Linked DNA regions of Homo sapiens: region 1 is linked to region 2. Evidence: fine-mapped expression QTL. A gene starts in region 2. The other region holds a variant in brackets. All regions are shown on one strand. Distances are between the middles of the regions. Region 1 overlaps NPFFR1 (neuropeptide FF receptor 1). Region 2 holds the start of NPFFR1 (neuropeptide FF receptor 1).

What was found. PIP is the estimated chance that this variant, and not a neighbour inherited with it, causes the effect. A credible set is the group of variants that fine-mapping cannot tell apart.
Region 1: its variant is the best candidate, but not a certain one, in a credible set for the expression of NPFFR1 in tibial nerve (GTEx, PIP 0.57).

Annotation. Positions count from the first base shown.
Region 1 is chr10:70,252,547-70,257,893 of GRCh38, forward strand. NPFFR1 (neuropeptide FF receptor 1) reads right to left here. Exons shown (of 4, transcript NM_022146.5): 4 at 1-3,281. The coding sequence ends at 2,411. Among named protein-coding and RNA genes, the nearest start is that of PPA1, 22 kb to the left of the region's middle. The variant G/T (reference allele first, on the strand shown) is at 3,463.
Region 2 is chr10:70,281,273-70,286,646 of GRCh38, forward strand. It overlaps NPFFR1 (neuropeptide FF receptor 1), which reads right to left and starts at 2,732. Exons shown (of 4, transcript NM_022146.5): 1 at 2,398-2,732. The coding sequence starts at 2,404. RefSeq lists an enhancer at 1,939-2,440.

The DNA of each region.
Region 1 (5,347 bases), 29 kb before region 2:
CACATCCACAAAGAAACGAACTCCCCACATACCCACAATGTCTCACTGCTTCATTAAAGCATTGTCATGCCTGTTATCACTCAGATCTGAATGGGCAGGTATAGCCTCTGATTGATTTTTTAGAAGAAACAAAAATAACAGCAAAATATGTTAATTGTAACCTTCAGCGAGAGCTGAAGGAGTTTTTTGGGCAGTTATAACCTTTCAAAGCATGACATCTTTTGGGGGAAGACAAAGGGGCTGTGATGGAAAGGTTGGCTTGAGTGAGTACTTTGGTATCCCTACCCGCCCCCAGCCTCAAATGCTGATCTTGTACTTGGGGAGGCTATGCTAAAGGAGAAACACACCCCAGAGGAGACACCAGGTGGTGTCTTCAGACAATTCCCACCCAGCCATAGGGATAGGCATTTTGGGTTTGAGACGGCCCTTTCTCTGGCTTACTTTTAGAGCCTGGAGTCAGACTTCTTCACAACAAATAGCCCAGAACCAGCTGGGAACTCTCTGGCCCATATGACACATGACACTGATACAGTACCAGAAATGCATGGCACCAGCTAATACCACTGAGGGGCAGGAGGGCATACTCTCTCTCAGACCCTCATCCATCACCCCCAGAACCAGGACAAGGTCATGATGGCTCTTGGCAGCCTGCTCAGCACCAGGGCAAGAACAACTCAGGCTGGACATTACGAGAGTAAACACAATAGATTTCTTTCCCAGACCAAGAGCTTGGGCACCAGGAGTGGGCATTCTGGTTCACTGTTAGGCAAAAAAGCCTTTGGGGAAATTACCAGCTCTCCCGTCATCCCCACCTTCCTTGAAAGGCAGCATGTGGGGTGGGAAGAACAATCAGAAGACAAATTTTAATCTAAATCCTGCCCCTCTGTGGCCCTGGAAACTTGGCCCCTTTGAGCTTCAGTCACTTTGTGAAATGACAATAACATTCAATCTCCTTCAACCTCATTACTATGGATTAAATGAGACGGTGTCTGGGGACATGCTTGGAGAATGTATTGTACAACTGCTTAGGAATTTTCTTCTGCCCCTAAACCTGGAACTTAGAGTGGAGCAAACAGTAAACAGTCACTGTGTGTCGGTTAAGGGAACAGAGCCTCAGAGCCCCGACCCCTGGAAACGTTTCTTTTTTGTTTACTAAATTTCTAGCAACACCGTGTTTTCTACAGAGGTGGGGGGAAATGTCCATTTAAGTGCAAGATGAAGGGGCCTGTGAAAGGACCCTCCAAGGCAATCCCATGTGCTCCCGTCTCCTGGAAAGAAGCCACATTTCTTCAAGTTGATGCAGGGGTGTTGGGGGAAAGCCAGAGTAAACAGGGCTCTCCTGGTACCTCCTTAGAGTACACAAGTCATTTGTGCTGGGGAAGAGTTTAGTGTGTGTCCTTCAGGAGTCTCCAAATGGCACTCCGGCTGCAGCTTCAGTTGACCAACTTCTCCCTCCCAGGAAGCAGGGAGGAGAGAGACCTTGGGCAAGGCTTTGTACCTGCAGCCCCAGTGAGCAGATGTGTTTCCCAATGTGGAAAATGCATACCGTGCTTCCCCTTCCTCGTTGTCTATGAGTACGTAAAAGGACACCTCCTGTGGCCCTGCAGCATTACAATGTCTGTGGCATTGTAAGTTCTTGCCTTGGTCTGGGAGTCCCTCCTCTGTTCTCTAAGCTCAGACCCAGAGGGCAAGACCTAGAGTGCCCTGCAACTGAGGCAGCCTCCCCAAGGCTCGTTCTGAAGCTGCCGTCCTCTGAGGACAATGGCTTCTTGGAACTTCTTGGAACAAACAAGACAAACCAACACATTAGAGCCGGCAGCGGGGGCACACCGTGTTCTTCTAGAAAAGGATCAAGGGGAGTGGCTTCAGTAACGGAACATGAGGGACTCCCTCACATGGACACAAAGCATCAAGGGACAGGCCGGCTTTGCTTTTCGCTTCTTCCTAGCTGCCTAATTAGGACTTACTCAGTTCACAGTGTTCTACCTTACCGGGCCCTCTTGGAGCCAGCTGGAGATGATAAAAACCACACAGGTATTGGAGTCAGATAGCTTCACATGCCATTTCCACCTGAGAAACTTGGGTGAGTCACATCTCTCCAGGCCTCAGTTTTTGCATCTGTAGAAGGAAGAGAAGACAACCTATCTCCAAAGCGTTGTGACAATTCAGTGAGATGATGTTTGTCAAGCCCACCACACAGGGCAAGTTGGTTCCTTCCCGTCCCCCGCATTTGCCTCTACTGAGGGTGAAGGCAGCAGAGAAGACATCACCAGCAGCTGCCCACCACTGCCTGGCTCTGGAGAGGGAGGGACCACGCATCCTCACCTAACCACACCAGGCCGCTATCGCCTGCATGTATCTCGTGTCCAATCGGGGCCCTGAGGCAGCGTCCCGCCCTCCCTGGACCCCCTCAGATATCCCAGGCTGGAATGGTGAGGGGCAGGTGGGAGCAGCCAGGCCCTTCCCTGGGCAAGCCGTGGTGAGCCACCCGCCCATTCCGCAGCGGGAGGCGGCCGGGCCTGGGGGCCCCACTGCTAGGGCCCGACTCAGAGGGCAGCCCGGAGTCGCTGGGCCGCACCACCACGAAGACCCGCCTGTGCAGAAGCCCGCCGGGCCGCTCGGAGTAGGCCTCCTTGTGGCTCCCCGACGGGCGCGGGCAGAGGCGGGCGCGGAAGGCGGCCTGGAAGCCGCGGCGGAAGTTCTCGTTGAAGTAGCCGTAGATGATGGGGTTGGCGCTGCTGTTGAAGAAGGCCAGCCAGTGCGCGAAGGGGAAGGCGTAGACGGTGACCAGGTGCAGCTGCGGCGCGCTGAGCTGCCCGTAGTCGATGAGCAGCAGCAGCGCCCAGAGCGGCAGCCAGGACAGCGTGAAGAACAGCGCCACCATGACCAGCATGTGCACCACGCGCGCTCTGCGCCGCGATGCTCGCGGGTCCGCAGCCTCCTCGCCCCCGGGGGCCGGGCCCGGGGCCTGGCAGAGCTTGCGCGCGATGCGGGCGTACATGACCACGATGAGCGCCAGCGGCGCCAGGTAGATGTGCGAGAAGAGCACAGTGGTGTAGACCCTGCGCATGCCCTTCTCGGGCCAGGCCTCCCAGCAGGAGTAGAGCGGGTAGGAGCGGTTGCGGGCGTCCACCATGAAGTGGTGCTCCTCACGGGTGACGGTCAGCGTGACGGCCGAGGGACACATGATGAGCAGCGCCAGGGCCCAGATGACGGCGATGGTGACGAGCGCCTTCCGCAGGGTCAGCTTCTCGCGGAAAGGGTGCACGATGCAGCGGAACCTGCCGCGGGGAGAGAGACAGGCGGGATCTGGGTGGGTCCTAGGGCCCCTGCGAGGGGACGGTGGGTGGGATGCGGGCACCTGACCTTCATCATCGCATCTAGGGCGGCGTCGAAGAACAGCTCAGACCTGAATTGGCTGAGTAGTCAAAGAACAAAGGCAGCTACAGGATTTATGAGAAG[G/T]GAGGAGGAAACCGCAGATCGTGTGGGAACAATGAATCCTGTGTGCACTTTTGCACTTTTCTCCTTTTTTTTTTTTTTTTCCTGAGACAGGGCCTCCTTCTGTCGCCCAGTCTGGAGTGCAGTGGCGCGATTACGGCTCCCTGCAGTCTCCACCTCCCGGGCTCAAGTGATCCTCTCCTCCCACCTCAGCCTCCTGAGTAGCTGGAACCACAGGAATGCGCTGCCACCTCGCCGGCTAATTTCTTTCAATTTTTGGAGAGATGAGGTCTCACTGTGTTGCCCAGGCTAGTCTCAAAGTCTTGGGCTCAAGCTATCCTCCGGCCTCGGCCTCCCGAATTTCTGGGATTATAGATATGAGCCTCCTTGCGGGGCCATTTGTGTACTTTTGGGGGTCAACTGATTAGCTGGCAGCTAGCAGAGCGATCAGAGTGCGCAGTCTGTCCTCGACAAGGACGATTAGGTGCGTCAAATAACACAGTTTCTGTTTATGGATTCTCCAGAAAACCTCAGGAGGTCAGATGTAGAGCCTACATGTCAGGCTGTCCCTATGTCATCTTGGCCATAGTATCAGTATCTCTACAATGCAAGGACAAGTCTGCACCATTTATTTCCTCATGAGGACAACTCAGCATCTGTTATTACACCCTTTATTATTTTTTAAAGGTGAGGCCTTTAAGATAGTTACTACACTGTTGATTTACAGACAAGGAAACTGGGACTCGAGTGTTAAGCAGTTGGCTCAAGTTCACATAGCAAGTTGCAAGGACCAGTCTTGAACCCAGATTTGTCTTGCTTCATATGCCATATAAACCAGTAGCTGTAAACCCTCCATGTGCATGAGACTCTCCTGAAGCATTTCAACAACAAAGACAAAACCCGTGCCTATTTTTTCAGGCCAAGGATTCCAACCTAATTAGTCTAGAAAGTGGTTTTAGCATTATTTGTTATGTGCTGTTTTTGTTTTTAAAGCTCCTGGGGTCAGGTGCCATGGTTCATGCTTATAATCCCAGCACTTTGGGAGGCCAAGGCAGGAGGATCACTTGAACCCAGGAGTTGGAGACCAGCCTGGGAAACATGGTGAAACCCCATCTCTACCAAAAAAATTAACCAGATGAGGGGATGCTTGCCTATTCTTCCAGCTACACAGGAGGCTGAGGCAGGATAATCACTTGAGTCCAGGAGTGTAGGGAAAAGAAAGAGAAATCAGACTGTTATTGTGTCTGTGTAGAAAGGGAAGACATAAGAGACTCCATTTTGAAAAAGACTTGTACTTTAAACAATTGCTTTGCTGAGATGTTGTTAATTTGTAGCTTTGCCCCAGCCACTTTGCCCCAGCCATTTTGACCCAACCTGGAGCTCACAAAAACATGTGTTGTATGAAATCAAGGTTTAAGGGATCTAGGGCTGTGCAGGACATGCCTTGTTAACAAAATGTTTACAAACAGTATACTTGGTAAAAGTCATCGCCATTCTCTAGTGTCAATAAACTAGGGGCACAATGCACTGCGGAAAGCCGCGGGGACCTCTGCCCTTGAAAGCAGGGTATTGTCCAAAGTTTCTCCCCATATGATAGTCTGAAATATGGCCTCATGGGATGAGAAAGACCTGACCGTCCCCCAGCCCAACACCTGTAAAGGGTCTGTGCTGAGGTGGATTAGTAAAAGAGGAAAGCCTCTTGCAGTTGAGATAGAGGAAGGCCACTGTCTCCTGCCTGCCCCTGGGAACTGAATGTCTCAGTATAAAACCCTATTGTACATTTGTTCAGTTCTGAGATGAGAGAAAAACCACCCTATGGTGGGAGGTGAGACATGTTTGCAGCAGTGCTGCCTTGTTATTCTTTACTCCACTGAGATGTTTGGGTGGAGAGAAACATAAATCTGGCTTA
Region 2 (5,374 bases):
GTGGGGAGGTGAAGCAGCCAACGCCACCTCTTAGGTGGGGTAAACCTCGGGTTCACCCTGCACTTTTCTCAGAGTGTCCCCAGCAGGATAGAACCCCCCAGTTGCCCACAGCTAAAACCAGCTCATTAAGGCACCCATTTCTTGCCTTTTCTCCCTTCTTCATCTCACTCTCCTCATTCCCTCACTTCCACTGCCCGGCATCATCTCCCAAATAGACTCCCTATATCCAAGCTCTTGTCTTAGGGTCTGCTTTCAGAAGCAGGAGAATCAAACAAAGATGTTAGTGACTACCTCTTTGCGTATACACTTGTATATGTATATTTCCAATAATAAACCTATGTAATTTTGCATAAAGGGGATCACACTACACATGCATTCAAAAACCTGTTTTTTTTTCTAATTACTCACAGTGGGTAGTGAACATATTTCCATGTCAATAAAGAAAATCCTAAGCACAGTTTTTAATGTCTGCATAGTATGCCATTGCAGAAGTGTCTCATTTTTTATTTAATTTACATAATTTATGGCTATCTGGATGGTTTCCAATTTTGCACTGTGATGAACATGCTCAGGCACACATCTTTGCAAGTGTGCAGCTCAGAATTTGAAAAAATTCTGAGCTGAGGGAGTGCGTTGTTGTCTCCTAAGTGTACACTGTGTTTGGTCATTTCTTCTGGAATTTTAATAGAGGTCAAAACTAATCTTAGCAGTGTAGAGGCTTTTTAGATAAAAAATTTATATTTCCCTTTTTTGAAAATCAGGACATTTGCCCATCTTCAGTTTTCTGGCACTTCCTTCATTCTCTGTAGTTTCCTCAAAAGCAATGATTATATCTGTAAATACCTCTGGGTCGCTGGGATGTCATATGTCTGGGCTTCAATGAGTGAGCTCATTGTAGGTAACTTGATGTCTTCTTCCTATCGCTTGACTATCTTGGGTCTCTATTTCCTCCTTATCCTCTTTATTCCACAATTTGAAGTAAAATTGCCTGTATCTTGCTCTGCCTGCCCTCGAGCCTAAGCCAGAGCAGATTCCTTCTTGTTATTCTTAGACTTTGAAAGCTTTTTGCTCTTGTCTTTGCCAATTTCCCCCGACTTCTGTTCACTGGAGCTTCAGGGCTTTGCTAACGCCATTCTTACAGATCTGCCAATCTTCCAGATTCCTCTTGGGTTATTGATTCCTTCTTGCCTCTTTTGTGTGTGTGCTTTTCATACCCTGGCTCATTGGAAAACTACAAGTGCAGCCTCACAAGATTTTCTATAAAACTTGATTTTATTTTTTAACAGCAGTGTTTGCAATTACTAATTGGAATTTTGGGGTTTTATTACCTCTTGCCACAGCTGCCTCATACTGGCGTGTTGTACAACATATCTTATTTTATCCTCACAGACACTCTCTGAAGCCAGCTGAATGTTAAGTTCCCCCATTCGATAGATGGGTGACCAGTGGCACAGAAAGGTTTAGGCACTATCTCAAAGACACCCAGCAAGACAGTGGACGAGCCCTTGGTTTTCCAGTTTCTTAGCCTAAATATGGTTCCCCTTGTCCACAATGGCTGAGAGAGGGTTCTGGTAAAGTGGGAGCAAGCAGCCTTATGCCTTGGTCCGCTATCCCTTAAAATCCTGAAGGTAAGGTCCATAGTTCACTCTCCTTTCCTTAGGGAGAGAAATTCTCTCTACATGGAGGATATCACCTCTAGAATCCCATCTCCCCAACAACCCCACCCCTTCAAGCAGACAAAGTCGGTGACAATTCTTCTGAAGCTAATAGCCAAGCTGTCCTCACCTGGTCTCAAATGATTCTCTGCTCAGACAGCAGGGATTGTGTGCGTGCACACACACAACAGGGACTCTCTCTTTTTGTGTGTGTGTGTGTGTGTGTCTTGTACATGCACACACATATGTACAACACAAATACAGAGGCACCCCAGGTCTTTCTCTCTCTCTCTCACTCTCTCTCTCTCTCTCACACACACACACAAGCACAACATGAATACAGAGGCACCCCCAAGTGTTTCTCTGCCTGTCTCTGTCTCCCTCTCTCAGTGTCTGTCTCTATGTCTCTGTCTCTGTCTCTCTCTCTCTCTCTCTTTCACACACACAGGCACAACATGAATACAGAGCACCCCCAGGTCTTTCTCTCCATCTGTCTCTTTCTGTCTGTCTGTTTTTCTGTCTCACATACACACGCACACACACACACACCATGAACACATGGGCACCCCAGGTCTCTCTCCCTCACTCAGTGTCTCTGTCTCTGTCACACACAGAGTGTCACAACGTCTGGCTCTGGACAGCCATGGGTGATCAGCTGCCCGGCCCTCTCCTCTCCCTTCGCCCCATGCCCCGGAGTCGGTACCCTGCCCCACGGCTGGCCCCCAGCCCCAGGACCACTCACCCTCCATGATGCCCCCAGTTGCGGGCTCCGGCGGTCTCCGATGGCGGGAGGCAGCGGGCCCCTTCGGGCCAGCGGGCAGAGGGACGGTCTCCGGGCACTTGGTTGCGGGCTGCGCCCCTGCCTCCGCGCTCCGCAGGTCCGGTCGGTCCGGGCAGAGGTGAGCAGGGGGCGTGCGCTCCCAGGCCCCGGGCCCTGGCCGGTTTCCCTCCCCTCGGGCTGACTGGCTCCCGCGCAGCGCTGCTGCCCGCAGGGCTCAGCCGCCCGCCGCCCCTCGCCTCCCGACCAGGGGAAGGAGGGGGCTCGTGAGGCGCAGTCGTCATGGCACCCGCGCACCTGTGCCCGCCGAGCGAGGGCGCCCCGGGCCCGCCTCCCGCATGGCGCTCTCTCCACAGAGCCCGAGCGCCCCTCCGAAGTAGGGGACACACCCCTCCTCCCACTGCAGCCCTGGCAGCGGCGTCCCGTAATTCCCCACCTCTCTCCCGTGCCTCATATGCCAGCCTCTGTCCCCACTCCTCATCCTTGCCCACCCTAGCCTGGGGTCCAGCACTCTGGGCCTTCCTGAGAAGGGGATGAGAGGTAGCTGTGAAAACAGGAGGGCTTCGGGAGGGAGGCAGGGGGGAGCCCCACCAGCTCCCGGCTCTCCCAGGAGAATGGGGACAAGTTCTGCTAGGTGACCACGGCTTTGAAATTAACCAGTTCAGGCATTCACCGGGTGGTACCCTTGGAAAAGTTTCTTATAATAATACCTGTGCCTGAGTGTGTTTCTGCATTTGTAAAATGATTTTGAGGGGAGTAAATGTGATACCAAAGTTTCAGCCCAGCCCATAGTAGATGCTCAACAAATGGTTCCTTGAGCTGAATTGGAGAATACTCATCTCCAGCCCCTGTCAGGCACCCAGCAGGCACCACCATAAATTTTCGCCACATGAATAAAGATCCCAGGTTCTATCTGCACTCCTGTGTTTTTCTTGCAGCACTGTTTACAATAGCTAAGATTTGGAAGCAACCTAAGTGTCCATCAACAGATGAACGGATAAAGAAAATATGGTACATATATGTAAATGGAGTACTATTCAGCCATAAAAAAGAATGAGATCCAGTCATTTGCAACAACATGGATGGAACTGGAAATCATTATATTAAATGAAATAAGCCAGGCACAGGAAGCAAACGTCACATGTTCTTACTTATTTGTGAGATCTAAAAATCAAAACAGTTGAACTCATGGACATAGTAGAAGCATGTGGTTACCAGAAGCAGGGAAGGGTAGTGGGAGGATAGGGATGGTTAATGGGTACAAAAAAATAGCTAGAAAGAATGAATAAGACCTATTGTTTGACAGCACAATAGGGTGACTATAGTCCATAATAACTTAATTGTATATTTTTAAATAGCTTAAAAAGTATAATTGGATTGTTTGTAACTCAAAGGATTAGTGCCTGAAGGGATGGATACCCCATTCTCCATGATGTGCTTATTTCACATTACATGCCTGTATCAAAACACCTCATGTACCCCATAAATATATACACCTACTATGTACCCAACTATTTTTTTAAAAAAAGATCCCATGTTCTAGGCAGATGAAAGAAAGTGAATGGTCTATTCCTTCCTCTTTTAGGAGTCAGGAGTTTGCTCACTGGACACTGGGGAAACAGTTGGCATCAAGATTCTTCCTAGTCTCACTTCTTTCCCTAGTTCCTCCTCTGTCCAGAGCAGTGGGCAGAGTCTCACAGCTAGAAGGTCCTTAGGGGTCACTGAGTCTAACCCTGACCCAGAGCGGGCATCCTGACCCTAATCCCCAGCAAGAAGTATCCCCAGCAATGGGTACCTCTGCCATCATGTCCCTCTCTCTTCCCCTAGGGCAGCCCTTCAGAGGTCAAGTGGGAGGGAAGTTGCTCCTTCAACGCTGCTGTTCTACTGGAGAAACACAAGAATTTCACTGGGCTTTTTTCTTTCTGTGACTTGCCTCAGTCTCTTCATCTGTAAAATGGGCATAATAATGGCACCTATCTCCTATAGTTGTGAAGATTAAAGCAGTTACTATATACAAAGCATGTGAAACAGTGCTTTGCATATAGACAGTACGCAAGAAATATTATTCATCTTATCACTATCTTGAGTCCACCTCCCTGTAGAAGTGCTCACATTTCTTGAAGTCCCTCTGATAAAACCCAGAAGTATGTCAGGTCATATTAAGCCCCCTTGAGCAATGCAGAGTTTGAGGCACTGTGCTGTAAAGTCTGTATAGCCCAGCACTGCCATTTAGAGTTGGTGCGCTTTGGGAAATTTATATGTCTTTGTGCCTGAGTTTCCTCTCATCTACAAAATAGGGATAATAGTACCTACCATGTAGGGTTATGAGAATTAAATGAGTTAATATATGTAAAGCCCTGACAACATGTAGGTACTCAATAAATATGAGCTACAATTACAGGGGCAATAGAGTTTTTTTTTTTTTTTTTTTTTTTTGATAAGGTCTTACTCTGTCACCCAGGCTGGAGTGTAGTGGCACAATCTCAGCTCACTGCAACCTCTGCCTCCCAGGTTCAAGTGATTCTCCTGCCTCAGCCTCCCTAGGAGCTGGGATTACAGGCATCCACCACCGCAACCAGCGAATTTTTTCGTATTTTTAGTAGAGACGGGGTTTCACCATGTTGGCCAGGCTGGTCTTGAACTCCTGACCTCATGTGATCCACCTGCCATGGCCTCCCAAAGTGCTGGGATTACAGGCTTGAGCCACCATGCCCAGCCGGGGCACTAGACTTTGAATAATGCAGTCTCACTTTTTCGCTTTCTTCCCTTTCCTTCCTTCTTTCCTCAGCAGCCACATCATTCTAGCGCCTTGTGGTCAATTGCTCCACCATCTTTTTTATTTGAATAGTTCCAGATCATAGAGCCTTTTCTTCCTTTTCCCTCCTCTTCTACAGACATTTTTCTTCTACCATTAAAACCTTCCTATAGTGTCAAGTCCACG